Linked DNA regions of Homo sapiens: region 1 is linked to region 2. A link means that fine-mapping ties the variant in region 2 to the expression of a gene that starts in the linked region. Tissue or cell type: blood mononuclear cells. Region 2 holds a variant in brackets; the other region holds the start of a gene. All regions are shown on one strand. Distances are from middle to middle. Region 1 holds the start of CAPG (capping actin protein, gelsolin like). Region 2 has its middle 36 kb from the start of SH2D6.

What was found.
Region 1: CAPG starts here. The variant in region 2 is fine-mapped to the expression of CAPG in blood mononuclear cells (TOPMed, PIP above 0.99).

What each region holds. Positions count from the first base shown.
Region 1 is chr2:85,403,827-85,414,559 of GRCh38, reverse strand. It overlaps CAPG (capping actin protein, gelsolin like), which reads left to right and starts at 4,194. Exons shown (of 10, transcript NM_001747.4): 1 at 4,194-4,243. LOC105374841 (a long non-coding RNA gene) reads right to left here and starts at 849. Exons shown (of 3, transcript XR_940316.3): 1 at 493-849. RefSeq lists silencers at 434-513, 3,967-4,016, 4,127-4,176 and enhancers at 644-693, 589-1,090, 8,699-8,748.
Region 2 is chr2:85,449,370-85,459,885 of GRCh38, reverse strand. No RefSeq gene overlaps it. Among named protein-coding and RNA genes, the nearest start is that of SH2D6, 36 kb to the right of the region's middle. RefSeq lists enhancers at 405-960, 3,853-4,842. The variant G/A (reference allele first, on the strand shown) is at 4,909.

The DNA.
Region 1 (10,733 bases), 45 kb after region 2:
TACTCAGGAGGCTGAGGCTGGAGGATTGCTTGAGCCTGGGAGGTTGAGGCTGTAGTGAGCTGTGATCACAGCACCGCACTCCAGGTGCCGCGACAGAGTGAGACCCTGTCTCAAAAAAAAAAAAAAAAATCTTAGTTCTGCTACTGAACTAGCAATGTGACACTCTGGACAAGTTAGTTACCCTCTCTGAGCCTCCCAAAGACTTCATGTTTCCAGCAGGAATAATGATAGTAGATGTGAGGACGCACCAAGCACATAGTAGGCTCTCACAGAACAGTAGCTGTTCACAGGGTGATTGAGGCCGGGGGCCTAACGATTGAATGGAAGTGAACACTGCAATTCTCTCGCAAAGTTTACAGCACAGTAAGCTTGTCCTTAGCTTCCCCTATACCCTCCTTCCCACGCCCAATTCTAGGACCCTTTCGGGCGCCCCAGCCTCCCATAGGGGCTCCCCGCCAGCTCAGACCGGCCGGGCCCCTCCCTCTGACTCACCGGGGGCGGCTCCTGGCCGCGCACCTCCAGGGGGCGGGGGGCGGCTGAGACAGCGCCCAGGGCCTCGGAGCAAGGCGTTGGCAGGCAAGTAGTGCGCTTCGGGGTCCGGTCGCCGGGGACCTGGGCTCCCCATGTAGGGGTCGAACGGGCTTAGCCGGTTCGGGGGCGCCCCGCTCCCTCCTCTTCTCCCACAGCCGGGGTCCTCTCTTAGGGGCGCGCCGTCTCCTGGCTTCCTGTAAGAAAAGGCGGGAGAGGGTGGGTCCGTGCTAAAGAAATACTTTATTTTACTTCATTTGGGACAAACTAAGCAGTAGTGCTCAGGGGAGACCACAAGGGTAGGAACACTGTGCGTCTGGTAAAAAAACTAGTTCTAGAGCGTCGTTACCAGATAACTCATTAGCATGTGCATTGAGTTCCTAGCCGCTCCCGAGAGTCCTAGGCTGAGCGACCGGCCCTTTTGTTTCGCTGTTGTTGTTGTTTGTTTTTTGAGACGGAGTTTTGTTTTTATTGCCCAGGCTGGAGTGCAGTGGCGAGATCTCGGCTCACCGCAACCTCCGCCTCCCGGGTTCAAGCGATTCTCCTGCCTTAGCCTCCCGAGTAGCTGAGATTATAGGCGCCCGCCACCACGCCCAGCTAATTTTTGTATTATTAGTAGAGATGGGGTTTCGCCACGTTGGTCAGGCTGGTCTCGAACTTCTGACCTCAGGTGATCCGCCCGCCACGGCCTCCCAGAGTGTTGGGATTACAGGCGTGAGCCACTGCGCCCAGCCAGTTGTTTCGCTGTTAATGTGTAAACCTCTCCCCTTTTTTCCTGTGGTGATAGGAGAGGCTTTAGCCTAGACAGCTGAGTGTGAGGAACAGTGATTCCCATTGATCCTTGTTCCCTCCGTGGGTCACAGAGTCCAGAACTTAAGAGCCACCCAAGGTATGCGCTGTTGTGACCAAAATCTATGAAGCTTTCCAGCGCTGGGGCTGGGGATGGAAATAGGAGAGTGCTCTGTGGTTTAACTTTCTTTCCTCCTGTGGAGAAACCGGGAGCTAGGGGAGTGGCCAGGCACATTTCTACCTCAGGTGCTGATGGCACATTGCAAACTAAAGGGAAGAGAAAGAAGTCTGGGTTTATCGAGCATGTATTATTTGCTCATTAATCATAGGATCTCATTTCATCTTCACATTTAACTGTATGCACGTGTTACAGATTGGGGCACAGGGAGGCTCCAGGAGGTTAAGTCACTTGCACAGCTAGTAAGGAGCCAAATTGTCTAGCTCTTATCACTCTACCAGGTTAACCGCCCAGCCTGTGGTTTTGTGGGGACTAGGCCCTACTGGGATTCTCACCCAGACTATCCTTTTTTTTCTTTTTTAAACTTTTAAGTTCAGGGGTACATGTGCATGTTTGTTATATAGGTAAACTCGTGTCATGGGGCTTTGTTGTACAGATTATTTTGTCTCCCCGGTATTAAGCCTAGTACCCATTAGTTATTTTCCTGAATCTCTCCCTCCTCCCACCCTCCACCAAACTACCCTATTATTATTGTTATTATTATTATTTTTTGAGACTGAGTCTTGCCCAGTCACCCAGGCTGGAGTGCAATGGCGCAATCTCGGCTCACTGCAACCTCTGCCTCCCGGGTTCAAGCGATTCTCCTGCCTCAGCCTCCTGAATAGCTGAGATTACAGGCATGCGCCACCACCCCCGGCTAATTTTTTGTGTCTTTAGTAGAGATGGCGGTTTAACCATGCTGGCCAGGCTGGTCTCGAACTCCTGACCTCATGATCCACCCGCCTTGGCCTCCCAAAGTGCTGGGATTACAGGCGTGAGCCACCGCGCCCGGCCCATATTACCCTATTTTTAAGCCTGGCAGTTTGGCCATGGAGACACTTGGATGCTAGCTACAGGCCATGTTCTTTGGGGAGAAGATTTAACTTCCCGTCTTGCTCTAGTGAAATTTTATCAATTTCGTTTCAATGAGAAACATTCATCCAGTATTGCTTTTTTTTTTTTTGAGATGGAGTCTTGCTTTGTCTCCCAGGCTGGAGTGCAGTGGCGCCATCTCGGCTCTCTGCAGCCTCCGCCTCCTGGGTTCAAGTGATTCTTCTGCCTCAGTCGCTCCAGTAGCTAGGATTACAGGCACCCATGACCATGCCCGGCTAATTTTTGTATTTTTAGTAGAGACAGGGTTTCACCATGTTGGCCAGGCTGGTCTTGAACTCCTGACCTCAGGTAATCTGCCTGCCTCAGTCTCCCAAAGTGCTGGGATTACCGGAGACAGCCACCATGCCCAGCCTATCCAGTACTGTATTTTCTCCAGACTTTTCCCACGCAGTCAAATAATGAGGTTTTGTTTGAAGGTCTGCTAATTAGGAAGATTTGTTCCAGATTTTGCTCCAGGGTCCCCAGGCCTTGACCCTGAACCTGGAGCCTTGTCTCAAGCCAGCCTGCTGACCAATACCTTTCCAGGACAGGCCGGCTAGGTTCTGGGCAGAGGAACTACGCTTGTGTGGCTGCATAACTGGGTGCTCACTTTCTCCTGGAGCCTCATACTGAGTCCGCTCATCCTTCCCCCAGGGATTCAGAAGGGAATGGGAGCCTCCCTTGCAGGGGCTTCCACTCCCTGTGTGTTTGTGGGCAGTCTCTTGTGCTCTCAGGACCTCGGTGTCCTCCAGAAAGCCAGCGAGTTGGAGGAGACAAGCTCTAGGGTCTAGTGACTGTGATGTAGGCAGGATAGTTGCCCTGGGTCAACCCAGGATGGGCTGTCTCTCAGAGGGCCCAGGGCCCAGAAGTCATGATGATAAACATCTGGTGAATGAGAAGCAGACCAAAGGGTAGAGACCTGAGAGGCATCAGCATGGCATGCGGAAGATGGTGAAGAATGTTTTATGGCCTCAGCCATTCCCTGAGAACTGAGCTTAGCCAGGTGCAGTAGCCCACGCCTGTAATCCCAGCACTTTGGGAGGCCAAAGTGGGAGGATTGCTTCAGTTCAGGAGTTCTAGACCAGCCTGAGTAGCAAGACTCTGTCTCCAGAAAAAATAAAAAAATTAGTCGGGCATGTTGGTGCAGGCCTGTGGTGTCAGCTGCTCAGGAGGCTGAGGCAGGAGGATCGCTTGAGCCCAGGAGTTCAAGGCTGCGGTTAGCGGTGATAATGCCACGGCACTCCAGCTTGCGTGACAGTGAACCCTGTCTCAGGAAAAAAAAAAAAACAAAAAAAACCAAAAAACTGATCTTAAAAAAAATCAAATACTTGCATTCAGGGCAAGGAGAAAGACAAACTGAGGGAGGAGGAAAAAGTAATGTGAAGCCAGTGACCCTGCCCAGAAAATGTGACTAACCCAGCAGCGGTGGGGGCTGTGCCGCGCCTGCCCCAGGCCCTGAATGGAGAACATGGCTTTCCTTGCTGGTCTCAGACTCAGAGATGCCCTCCCTGATTTGCCTTGGCTGTGACCTGCAGCGGGCTGAGGCCACTGTGGTGGGGCTGTGTGGACCTCCAGCCTCCCTGTGTGCCCCTCTGAGGAGACGGCCTGGCATACCCACTGCCCACCCCAGTGACTGCTCTTCTGCTTCAGGCCTGCTGGCCTCCCAGCACTGCCTGCCCCTCCCTGTCGGGGGACATCGCCTCCACACCGGCTGGGGAAGGAGCCCAGGGGTGGGGCTGGTGGGTGGGGCTGGTGGTTGGGGCAGCCAGAGAAGTAAGAGGGAAGTGAGAAGCCGGGTGGGGCAGGCTGGAAGGAAGACGAACCTACGAAGCAGAGGTAGGAGGAAGAAAGGAAAGTAGGAGTGTTGAAAGGTGAAGGTGGCAGGGTGGCTGCCAGCGCGGCTGGCTGGTACCCTCCTGGGTGGGCAGGCGAGGGCTGGCTGTGGTGGCCTGGGAACAGAGACCCACATTTCTGGATACCACATTGTGCCAGGGTGGAGTTCCCCCAGCCTGCTGTCCTGCCAGCCTTATGCCAGGCTCCAGGCACCTGATCTGATGGCAGCTGTGAAGCTGCCCGGGAGGATGGGTGGGCTGTGCCCATGCTGCACATGGAGGAACTCTTGGGTCAGGGCTTGTCCCAGCTGTGCCAGACCTCCTGACGGAGGCCACCACACTGCTCCTGAAGGCCCTCAGCCAGACTGGAGGTGAAATCAGATTAGAAGCTGCCTGTCCCCAAGACAGGACTGTGGTGTGATGCTATTTGGGTGGGAGTGGCTTGGGGAGGGGGCAGGGCAGTCCTAGCCATTTGAATTCAAATGCAAGTGGCACATTTGATTATTTTGCAAACTCTGGAAGACCTTGGCTGAGGGTCTAGGTGGACTGTCTGAGGTAGGAGGTGGGGAGGGAGGAAGTGGTTGACCCTGGGGAAGGGTAGGAGACCTATTTGGTATCAGGGGAAAAACCATTTGGAATCCCCAAATGAGGCCTCTGGACCTAGATTCTGAGAATGCCATGTCCCAGGCTGGGAGATTCAGTTTGGTTTCGAGGGTGGGCACCTACCTCCACCAGGAGAAGTGGAGGTGCTGTTTCATTTCACACCTAGGGGCAAGCAGGGACTGTGAAGGGAAGAGACCTATTGGGGGTCAGTGGAATCAGGGTCTGAGGAAGGCAAAGGTACCACTGGACCCCGGCAGGATTTTTGTCCCTCTGATGGCTGTCAAGTCTTTCCTTAAAGGTGTGTGTAACGGTGACCTCCTCTCCGAGGTCCCCCAGTGTGTCCTCAAAGACAGCCTAAGTCAGGACCATGGGACAGCCAGCAGGACTTGCGTCCTCCCCTCCCCCAGCCCCATGGCAGTCTGGGACCCCTAGCCCCTGCTCTCTGCCTCCTGGGGCTGCTCCAGCCTGTCCCAGCCTTTTGAAATCCTGGGCTATCCCTTAGGTGCCACCCCAGTCTAATAATCAGAGCCCAGCAGGTCCAGTTAATCAAATGCATTCTTTGAGCACCTGCATGAGGTTCCAGCTAGATCCAGAGGCAAAATACACTTCCTGCCCTAAAGGACCCTACAGTGTAGTAGTGGAGGTAGGCGGGTCCATAACTCACCACACTATGGCAGAGTGGGGAAAAGTAAAGGCTTTAAGAGGTGTAGAAGAGGCTGTTTGGTAAGGTGGTGAGTTTCCCATCACTGGAAGCCTTCAAGAAGAGGATGGTAAGGGATGCTATAGAAGAGATTTCTGCACTATGCGTGTATGGGTATGTGTAGGGCGGTGCAGGCAGAGCAGGACTAGATAAGAACTTTAGCGCTTTCTTTTTTTTGTTTTATTCCTCCCCCCCGGCCCCAGCTCCCCTCTTCAACTTTAGCACTTTCTAATGCTGACATCTGTGATTCTGTGACATTCCCCACTTAGAGGAAGTTCGTCTGCGGTTTCACTGGGTATGGTGGCTCCCTTGTTCACTGCACCCTGCAGCTAAACCATAAAACATGGGCTATTCTTTGTCTCTGTGCATGTCACCCCCAGTGCCAAGCCCCCAGCACAGACGTTGAGTGGAATGGAATAGACTCTTTGCTGGGCTGCTTGAGGAACAGAGGCATCAGGTGTGTCCTTGCTCCAGTTGAGATGTGAAGCAGCCAGTTTATGCTATAAAACAGGCTAAAGTATGTGCTCCCAGGGGAGAGGGCTGGGAGAACTCCCAGAGAAGGCGGAGGCCACTTAATGTCCTGGAAGTTTCCTTGGACAGCTGGGGCTTGATACGGGCCTGGAAGGATAAGGGGGCTTGTGTGTGTGTGTGTGTGTGTGTGTGTGTGTGTGTGTGTGTGACAGATTCTTCCTCTGTTGCCCAGGCTAGAGTGCAGTAGTGCCATCTCGGCTCACTGCAACCTCTGCCTCCCGGGTTCCAGCAATTCTCCTGCCTCAGCCTCCTAAGTAGCTGGGACTACAGGCACGCACCACCATGCCTGGCTAATTTTGTATTTTTAGCAGAGATGGAGTTTCACCATGTTGGCCAGGCTGGTCTTGAACTCCTAATCTCAAGTGATCCACCCGCCTCAGCCTTCCAAAGTTCTGGGATTACAGGCATGAGCCACTGTGCCCAGCCTAGGATGAGGGGGCTTTAATGGATGTAAGGGTGAACATGGACACTGAGGAAGCTCAAGGAGCTGTGGGCTTGGACAGAGGGCTGGGATAGGGGAAAGAATGAAAGGCCAGAGGTCAGGGTGGACCCTTCCCCAGGAGAGACTGGAACAAAAGGTCTCGGGACAGAGATCTAATGAGGCAGCAGGAGTTTCAACCCTGACCAAGCATTAGAGTCATCTGGAGCTTCTCAAACACTGACATCCAGGCTCCACCTAGAGAGTCTGGTTTTAATGAGTCCAATATGGAAGCTAGTCACTGGGGTTTTTCTTTCTTATTTTTCTGTAAATTACTTTTTTTTTTTTTTTTTTTTGAGACAGAGTCTCACTCTGTCACCCAGGCTGGAGTGCAGTGGTGTGATCTCGGCTTACTGCAACCTCCACCTCCCAGGTTCAAGCAATTCTTGTGCTGCAGCCTCCCAAGTAGCTAGGATGACAGGTGTGCGCCACCACGCCCAGCTAATTTTTGTATATTTTGTAGAGACAGGATTTCACCATGTTGCCCAGGCTGGTCTTGAACTCCTAAGCTCAAGCATTCCACCTACCTCAGTCTCCCAGTGTGCTGGGATTACAGGCATGAGCCACCATGCCTGGCTGGCACTGGGGTTTTTCAAAAGCCCCCAAATGATTCTAATGTGCAGGTGAGCATTTGACACTGTTCTGGACAGAATTCACTGGCACTACTACCATCACTTTGAACATATGTTCAAAATATGGGTGATCAAGCCCCATTCCAGACCTGTGGAATCAGAATCCCCAGACCAGGGGCTTGGGCACTGTTAAAGAAAAAAAATATGGCCCAGGCGCAGTGCCTCACGCCTGTAATCCTAGCACTTTGGGAAGCCAAGGTGGGCAATCACTGGAGGTCAGGAGTTCAAGACCAGCCTGACTGACATGGTGAAACCTCACCTCTACTAAAAGTACAAAAAATTAGCCAGATGTGGTGGTGCACGCCTCTAATCCCACTACACAGGAGGCTGAGGCAGGAGAATTGCTTCAACTCAGGAGGCAGAGGTTGCAATGAGCTGAGACTGTGCCACTGCGCTCCAGCCTGGGCAGCAGAGTGAAACTCTGTCTCAAAAAAAAAAAAAAGAAAATTACTAAGAGGAAACATCAAGGGTAAAGAGATTCTGGCTAGACTGAGCTAACAGGATTCCTTTTTTTTTTTGAGACGGAGTTTCGCTCTTGTTGCCCAGGTTGGAGTGCAATGGCATGATCTCAGCTCACTGCAACCTCTGCCTTCCGGGTTCAAGTGATTCTCCTGCCTCAGCCTCCCGAATAGCTGGGATTACAGGCATGAGCCACGAAGCCCAGCTAATTTTGTATTTTTAGTAGAGATGGGGTTTCTCCATGTTGGTCAGGCTGGTCTCGAACTCCCGACCTCAGGTGATCTGCCCGCCTTGGCCTCCCAAAGTGCTGGGATTACAGGCATGAGCCACTGTGCCCGGCCCCTAACAGGATTCTTGCTGAATACAGGCCAGAGTGATCAGACATCACTGGGGCGGCGGGGGCAGGGTGTTGAGGAACCCAATCAGATATCCACGATTATCAGATCGACCAGATATCAAGGGTAGGGGGTTCTAGGTAAATGGCCTTAGCAGGGTTCTTTTGCTAAAACCGGATTTTACAAGCACACAGATGGGCCTACGGGGTGGTTCAGAAGCCTAGTTAAAGTTTGGCCAAGCAAAGAATCTTTGTCAGTACCGACATTTTAATAAGGTCCCAAGGTCATTCTAATGAGCAGCCAAACTCCTTTCTTTTCTTTTTTTTTTTTTGAAACCGAGTCTCACTCCATTGCCCAGGCTGGAGTGCAGTGGCATGGATCTTGGCTCACTGCAACCTCCGCCTCCCAGGTTCAAGTGATTTCCGGATAATTTTTGTGCTTTTAGTAGAGACGGGGTTTCACCATGTTGGCCAGGCTGGTTTCGAACTCCTGACCTCAAGTGAACTGCTCACCACGGCCTCCCAAAGTGCTAGGATTACAGGCGTGAGCCACCGCACCCGGCCTGCCAAACCCCTTTCATCCAAACCCTGATGTGGCTCTCTGGCATGTAGGCTGCCTGATTTTGAGTTAAACACAGAATGAAAAATAGTAAAGGTGACAATTGGCGCACTCCGTGTCTCATTCTTGAGCGCTCCCTGATGGCTTGAGCTTGGGGCAGCCACTTCACCAGCTCAGGCCTGAGTCACAGGCTGGGCTGCCTGTTGCAGGGGATGTGGGCACAGCATGTGATCCTCTGTGGGATGGAGAAACGTTAAAGTTTCCCTCCGCAAACCTCTGCTCTCTGCATGTCCTCTTCCGGAATCGTGGTGCCAAAATATGCCTTCCACTATTTTGTAGGTTGGGAAAGGAAAAGGAAAGTCATAATTCACACAGCATTTCACATCCATTATCACTGCCCTTGACCTGTCCCTCTTTGTTTCCTACTCAGACTTAATACCTTCTGCTCTGTCATCTGCCTTCCCCCTACCCCTGACTTCCCTGGCCCCTGCGAAATATTGCACTTCCTGATCCTGCTGCCCCAGCCCCCAAGAATCTCCTAATGGTGCCAGCTTGCATTTTTACCCTCCAATTCCCCAAGCCCTTACCCTGTGCCACTGGGGCTCATCTTACACAAACTCTGTCCAAATGGATGCACAGCATGAATTGTATTATGTACGAAGTGCATGCTGGCTCTGTGATCTCTGCATTTTGAGCCAAAAAAAGAAATCCTCTAGTGATGGGAACCTATGAAAGCGACAGTGAGTGGAGCCGTAGCTGTTGCATTTTCTGAATTTTTTAAAAAGATAATATCTTTTTAAAAAATACTTGCGTTTAGCATTTTTTCCCTTGAATGACTTTTGTCCAGAAAAAGTGTTCATCATTCTGGCATTTGAGGGAAGCTGGGCATACAGAATTGATAGCTGATGCCTGGGAGTGGGTGAAATTTCTCAGGGAGGGAGTTTAGAATTAGAGCAGCCATTAAATATAATGTTAGGTGAAGGGTTTTTGTTTGTTTGTTGTATTTTAATAGATGCCTTTTTAACAGGTTAAGGAAATTTCTTTCTATTCCTAGTTTGTGGGTAAAAAAAAAATTTTTTTTTTTTTTTTGAGAGGGGGTTTTACTCTGTCATCCAGGTTGCAGTTCAGTGGCATGATCTTGGCTTACTGCAGCCTCTATCTCCTGGGCTCAAGCGATACTCACTCCTCAGCCTCCTGAGTAGCTGGGATCTGGAATTACAGGCTTGCACTACCACATTTGGCTGATTTTTATTTATTTTATTTTATTTTATTTTTTTGAGACAGAGTCTTGCTCTGTCACCCAGGCTGGAGTGCAGTGGCACAATCTCAGCTCACTGCAACCTCTGCCTCCTGGGTTCAAGCAATTCTCCTGCCTCAGCCTCCCAAGTAGCTGGGATTACAGACGCATGCCACCATGCCCAGCTAATTTTTGTATTTTAGTAGAGACAGGGTTTCACCATGTTGGCCAGGCTGGTCTCGAACTCCTGACCTCGTGATCCACCCACCTCGGCCTCCCAAAGTGCTGGAATTACAGGTGTGAGCCACTGCACCTGGCCTTGGCTGATTTTTAAAATTTTTGTAGGGTTGTGGTCTCCTTATATTGCCCAGGCTTGAAAAAATTTTAAACTAGGAATGAATGTAGAATTTTGCTAAATGCTGTTTCTGCATCTATTGAGGTGATTACACATACATGTTTGTTAATAGGGTGTATAGCATTGATTTTCAAATTTTGGCCTGTTTTTTTTTTTTTTGCGTTGTGAGCGGCTTTATTTATTTATTTTAAATTTATAATTGACAGATAATAATTGCACATACTTAGCAGGAGCAGTGTGATGTTTCATTGTACATATGCAATGTATGTGTATATATTGTATAATGATCAAATCAAGGTAATTAGCATATCCATCACTTTAAACATTTATCATTTCTTTGTGATGATAACATTCAAATCCTCTCTTCTGGCTATCTTGAAATATACACTGCATTATTATTAGCTATCATCACCCTGATTTTCAGATATTAAACCAACCTTGCATTCCTGGGATAAACCTCATTTGGTCATCATGGTTTATTTTTTATATATTATTTGATTTCATTTGCTAAAATTTTGTTAATTTTTTTTTTTTTTTTTTTTTTTTGAGATGGAGTCTCACTCTGTCACCCAGGCTGGAGTACAATGGCATGGGCTTAGCTCACTG
Region 2 (10,516 bases):
TTCTGGTTACTGAGTGGGGGACAAGAGATATCAGTATCTTCATTTAGTGTGAAGGGTGATCCTACTTACAACCCCTGTCTCCAATAAAATATCCGAGCCCTCACCTGTAACTGATGACTCCTAGTACAGAAAACCTCAGTTTTATCCTTTCCTAGTAGAAGCCGCTAGTGTCTTTTGCTGGGTTGGAGGAGGGACAGTCACTCACTGGAGGGCAATGGGGAGGGATTGGGGTTTAACTGCTTCTTCTTCTTCTTCGTTTTTTTTTGTTTTTTGTTTTTGACAGAGTCTCACTCTGTCGCCCAGGCTGGAGTGCAGTGGCACGATCTTGGCTCACTGCAACATTTGCCTCCTGGGTTCAAGCAATTCTCCTGCCTCAGCCTCCTGAGTAGCTGGGATTACAGGTGCACGCCACCACGTCCAGCTAATTCTTGTACTTTTAGTAGTGACTGGGTTTCACCATGTTGGCCAGGCTGGTCTCGAACTTCTGACCTCAGGTGACTCACCCGCCTTGGCCTCCCAAAGTGGTGGGATTACAGGCATGAGCCACCGCACCCGGCCCTGTTTCTAAAACAGACGTTTAATGAGTCTTCATTTTTAGGCTCATCTTTAACCTTCCTTCAGGAGGTACCTGGAGCCTTTTAGGGAATTCTATGGGTTAACACTTGGTTACCACTTGTTTTTTCCTGCAGCTGACAGTATTCAACATTCTCAGATCTTCTCAGTAATCACTGATTTCTAGCTTCCAAAGTCATGTTGCTATGTCTCCTCACAGGTTCCCTTTGTTCTTATTCATTTATGTCTATTTACAAATTCCTCCACCAGCATGTTAGTGGATTCCAGAGGGGGAAATATTCATTGATTTCTGCCACCTTTTTGTTGTTGTTATGTTAATTTTTACGTAGAGAAATACATTTGACTCTCAAACGGGGCAACAAAACCCCTGGAGAGTGACACATTGACCCCCTTTAAGTGACACGTTGGTCCAGTTTGAGTCAGGTGTTCCCTTCTACCAGTTAATTTTGGCAAGAGGAGTACAGCACCATGACTGGTGTGGGAATAGGTCCCTGTCCCAAGAGGGACCATCAGTGTGGCAGGGACAGTGGAGACATGTTCCACACACACAGTGGCTTGCACAGTCACAGAGATGGAGAAGGACAATCCCTAGAAAAGGGAGCCTACCCAGCTCCTGGGTGGGAGTTGATGTCCACAGGAAACCTGATGCTCACTGCACCTGGATGGGACGAGGAAGCCGACAGGGCCTCTCTGTCTGTGACTGTAGGTATGATATAATCCTATTTAGAAATAACATCACGAGTCTAAATTTGAGACCTGTTGTGAAAGTGAGACCCAGACCCCACTGCCCTTCTGCCTGCAGCCCTATACCCCTCCATGCTAGGGCCAGGATGGGAGCCATTTGGGGCCTGGGAAGAAACATGCCCTGCTTGAGAACCTGGTCAAAATGACTCTCTCTTGGAATTTATTTTGGCTACATGAATAAACAGAGACGTTTCCAAATGTCTAATCCTCAGTCTTCTGCTCTTTTCTCTCTACGCAGATTCAGCGATTACATCTCTATGGGTATCTGTAAACCCCTGCCGACCTCTCCCTCACCTTCAGTCCCACACTTCCACCCGCCTGAGGAACTCTTCCACTGTGTTGTCTCATGCACGTTGGCCCCAAGCTTCAATGCTCCAAATTGACCTCATCATTCTTGCACCTCCCAGGCTTGAAACCTAGGAATTATTTTCAACTCCTACCTCTCCCTTGGCACAGGTACCCAATTAGTCACCATTTTAATCATCCGCTGCTGGTAATCACTGTGACATTTATCCTATTGTATCTGGCAGTGAGATGGCTGTGGCTGTCAAGCTGACACACAAATCAAGCAGAATAAAACCCCACCCAGAAAAGGCTGGCATCAGCATGGAACTCTGTTACAAACATCAAAAGCAGTCTGTGGGCCGGGTGCATTGACTCATGCCTGTAATCCTAGCACTTTGGGAAGCCGAGGCAGGAGAATCACTTGAGCCAAGGAGCTCAAGACCAGCCTGAGCAACAGATTGAGACCCCATTTCTTTTATTTATTTATTTTAAAAAAATTTTTTAAATTTGTTTTTGAGACAGAGTATCTCTCACTGTTGCCCAGGCGGGAGTGCAGTGGTGTGATCTCGGCTCACTGCAACCTCCGCCTCCCAGGTTCAAGCGATTCTCCTGCCTCAATCTCCAGAGTAGCTGGCATTACAGGCATGTGCCACCACGCTGGACTAATTTTTTGTATTTAGTAGAGACAGGGTTTCACCATCATGGTCAGGCTGGTCTCGAACTCCAGGTGTGAGCCACCATGCCTGGCTGAGACCCCATTTCTATTACACAAATAATTAGCCAGGTGTGGTGGCTTGCACCTGTAGTCCCAGACATTCGGGAGGCTGAGGTGGGAATTTGAGGCTGCAGTGAGCCATGATCATACTACCACGCTCCAGCCTGGGCAACTGAACAAGGCCCTGTCTCAAAAAAAAAAAAAAAAAAAAAAAAGTGGTGTTATGGGGCTGACGGGAGGGGATGGGGAGATGTGATCAAGGCCAAGCTAGAGTGAGAGCAGATCCAGTAAGTGGAGTGAGCAGAGGAATGAAGTCATGAGCCGAGAGCCCACCCAGCGGCTGAGTTCAACCTTGAAGGCTCTGGGGGAGGAGCACCTAACATTTGTTTGGCATCTGCTAAGCAATCAAGGCCTTTTGCATATTTTATCATCTTCATCCTGGCAGCAAGACGTGGGATAGATGGTGAATCTGACATTTGCCTGGCACCTTTGGTTTTTGTTTTCTTTTCACAAACTCTAACTCATTTGATTCCATGGTAACCCAGTGAAGTGGTCAGAGCCCTCTTTGGTGAATGAGAAAACTGGATCCAAAAGTCCTCCATATCCTCGTTACTCAAAGTGTGGTCATCAGTATCACCTGGGAGCTTGTTAGAAACACAGATCGCCCGCTTATCCCAGGCTCACCCACTGGAATGTGCATTTAAACAAGAAGCCCAGGGATTCGTGGGCACATTAAAGCTGATCTATGTGACTGCTGGAGGAGTCTGGACCAGCCTTACACAGCTAAGTCTGCCCCTGGTCAGCAACGTTTGGCACAAATGCCAAGGTTACCTGCAACTCTGAGACAAGCTTGGCCATCAGCGGGGAGTGAGGCTGACAGAGCTGGGGACTGGGCGGTGAGAGGAGAGTGGAAAAGGGAAGTCAAGTCAAGGGTTGTTTGTGGGGATTATGCTGTGTGCTCCAGCACCCGTCAGGTGCTCCAGGACTGATGATGCAGCTGAGGACTGGGAAGCAGGAGACCATCAAGGAAGATGGCAGCCCAGCCCATGGAGGCAAGCAAAATGGAGTGGCTGAAGAGTTAGTGCTGGAGGAGGCACAGTCCCCTGGGAGTGGAGGGTCTTCCTGAGTGAGAGAGAAGGCAGGAGGAGGTGAGTAGGCCTGGGATGTGGAGGGCCCTGCACACCTGGCTGGGGAGTGCAGGCTTGATCTGGGGTCAGTGGAAAGTCTACGCTGGAGAGCTGTCCTGTGCCTCTTCCTCCACCCTGTTTCCCTCACCGGCGTCTCCTCATGGAAACATCTGTCTTGATAATCTTGACAGTCTCCTCTGGGACATCATAGCTCATAGACCTGCTCCCAGCCAATTCTCAACAACCAGAATTGAGCCCAGCCTGTCCTTTCCCTCTTCCTGAGCCTCCAAAGAGCCACCACTTTTCACCCAGTCACTGGCCACTCACCTTGGGAGTGATCTCAGACTCCTCCTGGTCCTGTAACCTCCACACTGCATTGTTCTTTGAGTTATCTCTGCTAAAAACCCTTCATCATCCCTAAGCAGCCTCCCCACCTGCAGTGTCTCCAGCCCACTCTCAGGCTTCCTTTGTTGGGTCCAAATTCCTCAGCCTGAGCTATTGTTCATAGCTCTCTACACCTTCCTCCTACCTTATCTTACCTGTGACTGCTCCCAGGGTCCCATTTCCCCCTCCTCCCCACCCTGCCTCCACTCCTGCCCTTTGATCTCCTTGTCCCTTCCTGCTTGTCTGTCCCCTGCTGGTGAGAGGTGAAGCCAGCTGGACTTCCTGGGTTGAGTGGGGGCTTGGAGAACTCTTCTGTCTTATAAGAGGATTGTAAAATGCACCAGTCAGCACTCTGTAGCTAGGTTTGTAAAACGCACCAATCAGCACTCTGTGGCTAGCTAGAGGTTTGTAAAATGCACTAATCAGTGCTCTGTAAAAACACACCAGTCAGCACTCTGTGGCTAGCTAGAGGTTTGTAAAATGGACCAATCAGCAGGACATGGGCAGGGACAAGTAAGGGAATAAAAGCTGGTCACCCCCAGCCTGGAGCGGCAACCCGCTCAGGTCCCCTTCCACGCTGTGGAAGCTTTGTTCTTTTGCTCTTCACAATAAATCTTGCTGCTGCTCATTCTTTGGGTCCGTGCCACCTTTAAGAGCTGTAACACTCACAGTGAAGGTCCACGGCTTCATTATTGAAATCAGCGAGACCACGAACCCATCAGAAGGAACCAACTCCAGACACACTGGGAGAGACCAACCCTCTTTGTTTCCTCTGGCCAAAGCCTGCCTGTCTTTCTATGCCCATATACATGCCTTTACTTCCTTCCTGTTGGGATTAGAAGATTAGAACCCAGGATTTGTGACTAGTGGCCAGGTTATAATTTTTTTTTTTTTTTTGAAACTGAGTCTTGCTCTGTCATCCAGGCGGGAGTGCAGTGGCATGAACATGGCTCACTGCAGCCTCGACTTCCTGGGGTCAAGTGATCCTCCTGCTTCAGCATTCCATGTAGCTGGGACCACAGGCATCCACTACCATGCCTGGCTAATTTTTTTTTTTTTTTTTTTTTGAGACGGAATCTC[G/A]CTCTGTTGCCCAGGGTGGAGTGCAGTCGCACGATCTTGGTTCACTGCAATCTCTGCCTCCTGGGTTCGAGCAATTCTCCTGCCTTAGCCTCCCGAGTAGCTGGGACTGCAGGCGTGCGCCACCACTCCCGGCTAATTTTTGTATTTTTATTAGAGACGGGGTTTCGCCGTATTGGCCAGGGTGGTCTTGAACTCCTGACTTCATGATCCGCCCACCTCAGCCTCCTAAAGTGCTGGGATTACAGGCATGAGCCACCACGCCTGGCCTCCTTCCTGCTTTCTAAACATTCTTTCTTGTTTTCTAGGCTGAACATGTATTATGTTATAATTATAGGATGAACATAAACCTTTCCGAAGAATGAATTGCCGCTAAGGAGAGGCTGAAGGGCAGGGTGCGGGACAGGAAGGTGACTGTTGAGAACATCTGGGAGGGGAGCCATTGACTAGTGTTGGCCTTGGGTGGACGGGGACGGGGAGGTGGAAAGCTCTGTGGCTTCATGCCATGTTTAATTCAGACCTGGGCTTGAACCCCAGCTTTGCCTTTGCTCCTTAATCTGTGACCTTGGGAAAATTAGTTAACACTGAGTTTCAACATTTACTAAATTATGTGGCCTTAGGAAACTAATCTAGCCTCTTTAAGCCTCATCCATTCAACAGTTTTAGTATCTAGGAAATGTTAAATCAAGTTTAATCTAAAGCTGCCTCCTTACATTTTTTCTTATTTATTTATTTATTTATTTATTTATTTATTTATTTATTTATTTGAGACAGAGTCTCATTCTGTTGCCCAGGCTGGAGTGCAATGGCGTGATCTTGGTTCACTGTAACCTCTGCCTCCCGGGTTCAAGTAATTCTCCTGCCTCAGCCTCCCAAGTAGCTGGGATTACAGGTGCACACCACCACACCCGGCTAAATTTTGTATTTTCAGTAGAGATGCGGTTTCACCATGTTGGCCAGGCTGGTCTTTAACTCCTGACCTCAGGTGATCCACTTGCCTCGGCCTCCCAAAGTGCTGAGATTACAAGCATGAGCCACCGCGCCTGGCCTCCTTATATATTTTAAGTTTGGCCTAAAGGTTTCTCTGTACATCATGAACTACAGCCTAAATGGAAGCGTAAACAGACTGTAATCTACTCTTGGGCCAATCACCGAGTTTTGGCCATTCAAATGTGGCCAACTGTTCAAACTGTGTTCAAATAAGGCAAACGCAAAACTGCAACCAATCCAGCTGTTTCTGTAACTCGCTTCCGTTTGCTGTATGTCTCTTTCCTTTTTCTGTCCATAAATCTTCTTCCACCATGTGGCTACACTGCAGTCTGTGGGCCTACTCTGGCTCAGGAGGCTGCCTGATTTGGGAATCATTCTTTGCTCAGCTTTTACATTTAATTCAGCTGAAGCTTTTCTTTTAACAGGAACTATGTACCAGACACTGTTCTACCTGCTAGGCTCTAGCAGGAAATAATTCAGGCAAATTCTTCATCTTCATGGAGTTTTTATAGTTTAGAGAGGAGAGGGACATAATAAATAGCCAAGAAGAAGTATAGTGACTCGTGCCTGTAATCCCAGCACTTTGGGAGGCTAAGGCAGAAGAATCACTCGAGCCCAGGCATTTAAAACCAGTCTGGGCAATATAGTGAGACCCCCCCCAATCTCAACAAAAAATTAAAAATTTAGCCAGGCATGGTGGCACACACCTGTAGTTCCATTTACTCAGGATGCTGAGGATGGAGGATGGTTTGAGCCTGGGAGATTTAGGCTGCAGTGAGCCATGATCCCACCACTGCACTCCAGCCTGAGCAACAGAGCATAAGACCCTGTCTCAGGGAAAAAAAAAAAAAAAAAAAAAAGGCCAGGTGCAGTGGCTCACACCTGTAATCTTAGAACTTTGGGAGGCCAAGGTGAGCGGATCACTTGAGGTCAGGACTTCAAGACCAGATTGGTCAATATGGCAAAACCCCATCTCTACTAAAAATACAAAAGTTAGCCAGGCATTGTGGCAGATGCCTGTAATCCCAGGTACTCAGGAGGCTGAGGCAGGAGAATTGCTTGAACCCGGGAGGTGGAAGTTGCAGTGAGCCGAGGTCGCAGCACTGCACTCCAGCCTGAGGGACGGAGTGAGACTTCTTTGCCCCTATCCAGCGGGAAGTAGCTAGAGTGATCATCGCCCAATTCAGGAAATTCGGAAATTTGTGATATTTTATTTTTATATATGTGCACTCATGTGCACACACACACACACATACACACATATATGATATGAAAAAAATGCAGAGGAGGAATCTAGAATGTGGAGTGTGGGAAGATTTCCTCGTCTTAAAGTAGTGTGGGGAGGCCTCACTGAGGGGTGACATCTGAGCAGAGACCAGAAGGAAATAGAACAGCCAGCTTTGTGAGTGTTTTGGGGGAGAGAATTCCAGGCTGAGAAGACAGCAATACACTCAAGGCAAGAGTGGGCTTGCAGTGTCTGAGGCCAGTGTGGCAGGGGTCAAGGGAAAAGTCAGTGGCAGGAAATGGAGCCAGGGAGGTGGCAGTGGGCCAGATCACACAAGGCCTGGTAGGCTGTGGTCAAGACTTCAGTGGCTAGGATTAGTGGCAGCAGGGCCAGTGGTGGGTATATTTTGAAGGTAGAGCCAACAGGGTTTGCTGATTTTTTTTTTTTCTTTTTTGAGACAGGGTCTTGCTCTATCACTCAGGTTAGAGTGCAGTGGTTGCAATCTTAGCTCACTACAGCCTCGACCTCCTGGGCTCAGGTGATCCTCCCACCTCAGCCCCCCTAGTAGCTGGGTGTACATGCAAGCACCACCATGCCCGGCTAATTTTTGTATTTTTTGTAGAGACGGGGTTTTGCCATGTTGGCCAAGCTGGCCTTGAACTCCTGTACTCAAGTGATCCTCCCGCCTCGGCCTTCCAAAGTGCTGGGATTACAGGCAGGAGCCACCACGTCTAGCCTTGCTGGTTATTAATGTCGATCGTGAGTAAATGAAACAGGTCAAGGAAGAGTCCTTTGTCTGGTTTTGGTCTGAGCATGGAGAAGGTGAAGGTATCGTTTACTGAGTTTGGTAAGGCTGCAGAAGGAGCAGGTCTAGGGTAAAAATAAAAGTTTAATTTTGGATATTGTGCCAGCTGTGTCTATTAGACACCCAGGTCAAGGTGTTGATTAGGCAGTTGGATATTCAAACCCAGAGTTCAGGGGACAGGTCAGGGCTGGAGATACAAATTTGGGAGAGGTCAGCATAGAGAGATTGATCTTAAAGCCATGAGCCTGGATGAGGTCACCTGGAGTGTGAACAAGGACAGAGAAGAGAAGGACTGACTCCTGCGGCCGTGCAGTATTTTGACACCAGGAAAATGAAGAGAAACCAGAAATATACATGGGGGAGGAGGGGCCAGTGACATAAAAGAAGGTCCAAGAAAGGGTGGTGTCTCAGAGGCCAAGTAAGGATGTGTTTAATAAACATGATCCCAGCCAGGCATGGTGGAGCACACCTGTAATCCCAGCTACTTGGGAGGCTTAGGCTGGAGGGTCACTCGAGCCCAGGAGCTCAAGGCCAGCCCGGGCTACATAGTAAGATCCTGTCTCTAAAAAAATAAAATGTGAACCCTTGTGTTTCTGTTTCTAGTGTTGTTGATAGACTGAATTCATGCTATAGGTGGGTGATTCTGCAAGCACTTTGTTAGCAGTTACTCTGGAGGCCTGGTGTCATTATGGATATATTAAAGAAAGGCTGCCCTTTTTTTTTTTTTTTTTGAGAGACAGGATCTCACTCTGTTGCCCAGGCTGGAGTGCAGTGGCATGATCACGACTCACTGCAGCCTCCACTTTCCAGGTTCAAGTGATCCTTCTGCCTCAGCCTCCTGGGTAGCTGGGATTACAGGCTCACACCAGCACAGCTGATTAATTTTTTTTTTATTTACTTTTATCTTTTTTTTTTTTTTAATGAAATGGGGTCTTGCTATGTTTCCCAGGCCTGTCTTGAACTCCTGAGGTCAAGCAATCTGCCTTCCTTGGCCTTCCAAAGCACTGGCATTACAGGTGTCAGCCACCACTTCCGGCCATTAATATTTAAAAATTTTTTTTGTTGAGATGGGGTATCTATGTTGCTCAGGCTGGTCTCAAACTCTTGGGCTCAAGCGATCCTCCTGCCTCAGTGTCCCAAAGTGCTGGGATTACAGGCATGAGCCACTGTACCTGACAGAGGCTGCCATTTTTAGTGGCCAATCCATCCAGTGTAATCCAGCAGTCTTCTTCTTCCCCCTCACACAGCCACCTGCAGTGAAAATCGGGAGGGAACAGGCAATGAGGGTGCCGTGGGGAGCAGCACTTGGCAGGAGACCATGGATGGAATTCCAGGTAGGCAGGTGGGGCCTGACAGCCACAGTAGAGCTTTGGTCTCTGGGGAGCCTGGTGAGTGTCAGGTGAGACCCTGGCCCTTCAGTACAGTGACACTTTGGGCAGAATGAGGAAGCAGGAAGGGGTCCCAGGTGTTAGAACAGATGAGTTCTTTGGTGAGTACACAAATTTTCAGGTGGTAGAAACACCAAATGGAGCCTCCAGATCCCTTCTTTGTGACCCATGGCCTGTCACACCATAGATTAGCCATCCCCTCACCCTTCTCCATCCTTGGGAATCCCCTCTCTGATTCCAGCCCCATGACTTGACCTGTTCTTCTCCCTCCAGCAGCACGGGCTTCTGATCCTCTCAAGTCAGAGCCCCTCTGGTTCATGGGTCCCTTCCCGGAGTCTCTCACCCCAGTGGTGTCCTCAGATCCACCCTAGAACTGAGCCTGGTTTCACAAAACAGCCGTGGCAGCTACTTTCTGTCCTCTGAAATAAATAAAAGTCTCCTCTTGTCCCTGTTGCATTACTAATCAGCCACAGCTCATACCCTCTGAAGCCTTCTTATTATCCTGCTTCCTGAGAACCTGATTCTTCTAGGCACTCTGTGATGTTTAGAGAGATACCTGCTTTATTTTATTTATTTTTATTTTTATTTTTATCGTGACGGAGTCTGGCTCTGTTGCTCAGGCTGGAGTGCAGTGGTGTGATCTCAGCTCACTGCAACCTCTGCCTCCCAGGTTCAAGCAATTCTCCTGCTTCAGCCTCCCAAGTAGCTGGGATTACAGGCATGTACCACCATGCCTGGCTAATTTTTTTTATTTTTTTTTTGTATTTTTATTAGAGATGGGGTTTCACCATGTTGGCCAGGCTGGTCTCGAACTCCTGACCTCAGGTAATCTACCTTCCTTGGCCGCCCAAAGTGCTGGGATCACAGGCGTGAGCCACTGTGCCCAGCCAAGCCCTGCTTTACTAAAGTTAGCTTTTACGTCAAAGACAGAATGTGAAGATATAATAGATGAGGGCTCATCTCAGAAAATCCCCACGGATCATAGAGGTGGGGTGAGAAGGAACTGGAAGGAGGAGGGGATCGCAGGAGGAGTCACCCTTTCAGCTAGAGAACTGTGCATTTTCCATGTCACGCAGGGACAGTCTCTTTTTGTCATCCTGTTGTAATGTGCAACACTCTGTTCAGTTCATGGCCAAGGAACAGAATGTCTCACCACAGGAGGCCTCACCCCCAGGGAGCCAACCCACGGCCTTGGTCTTCTGA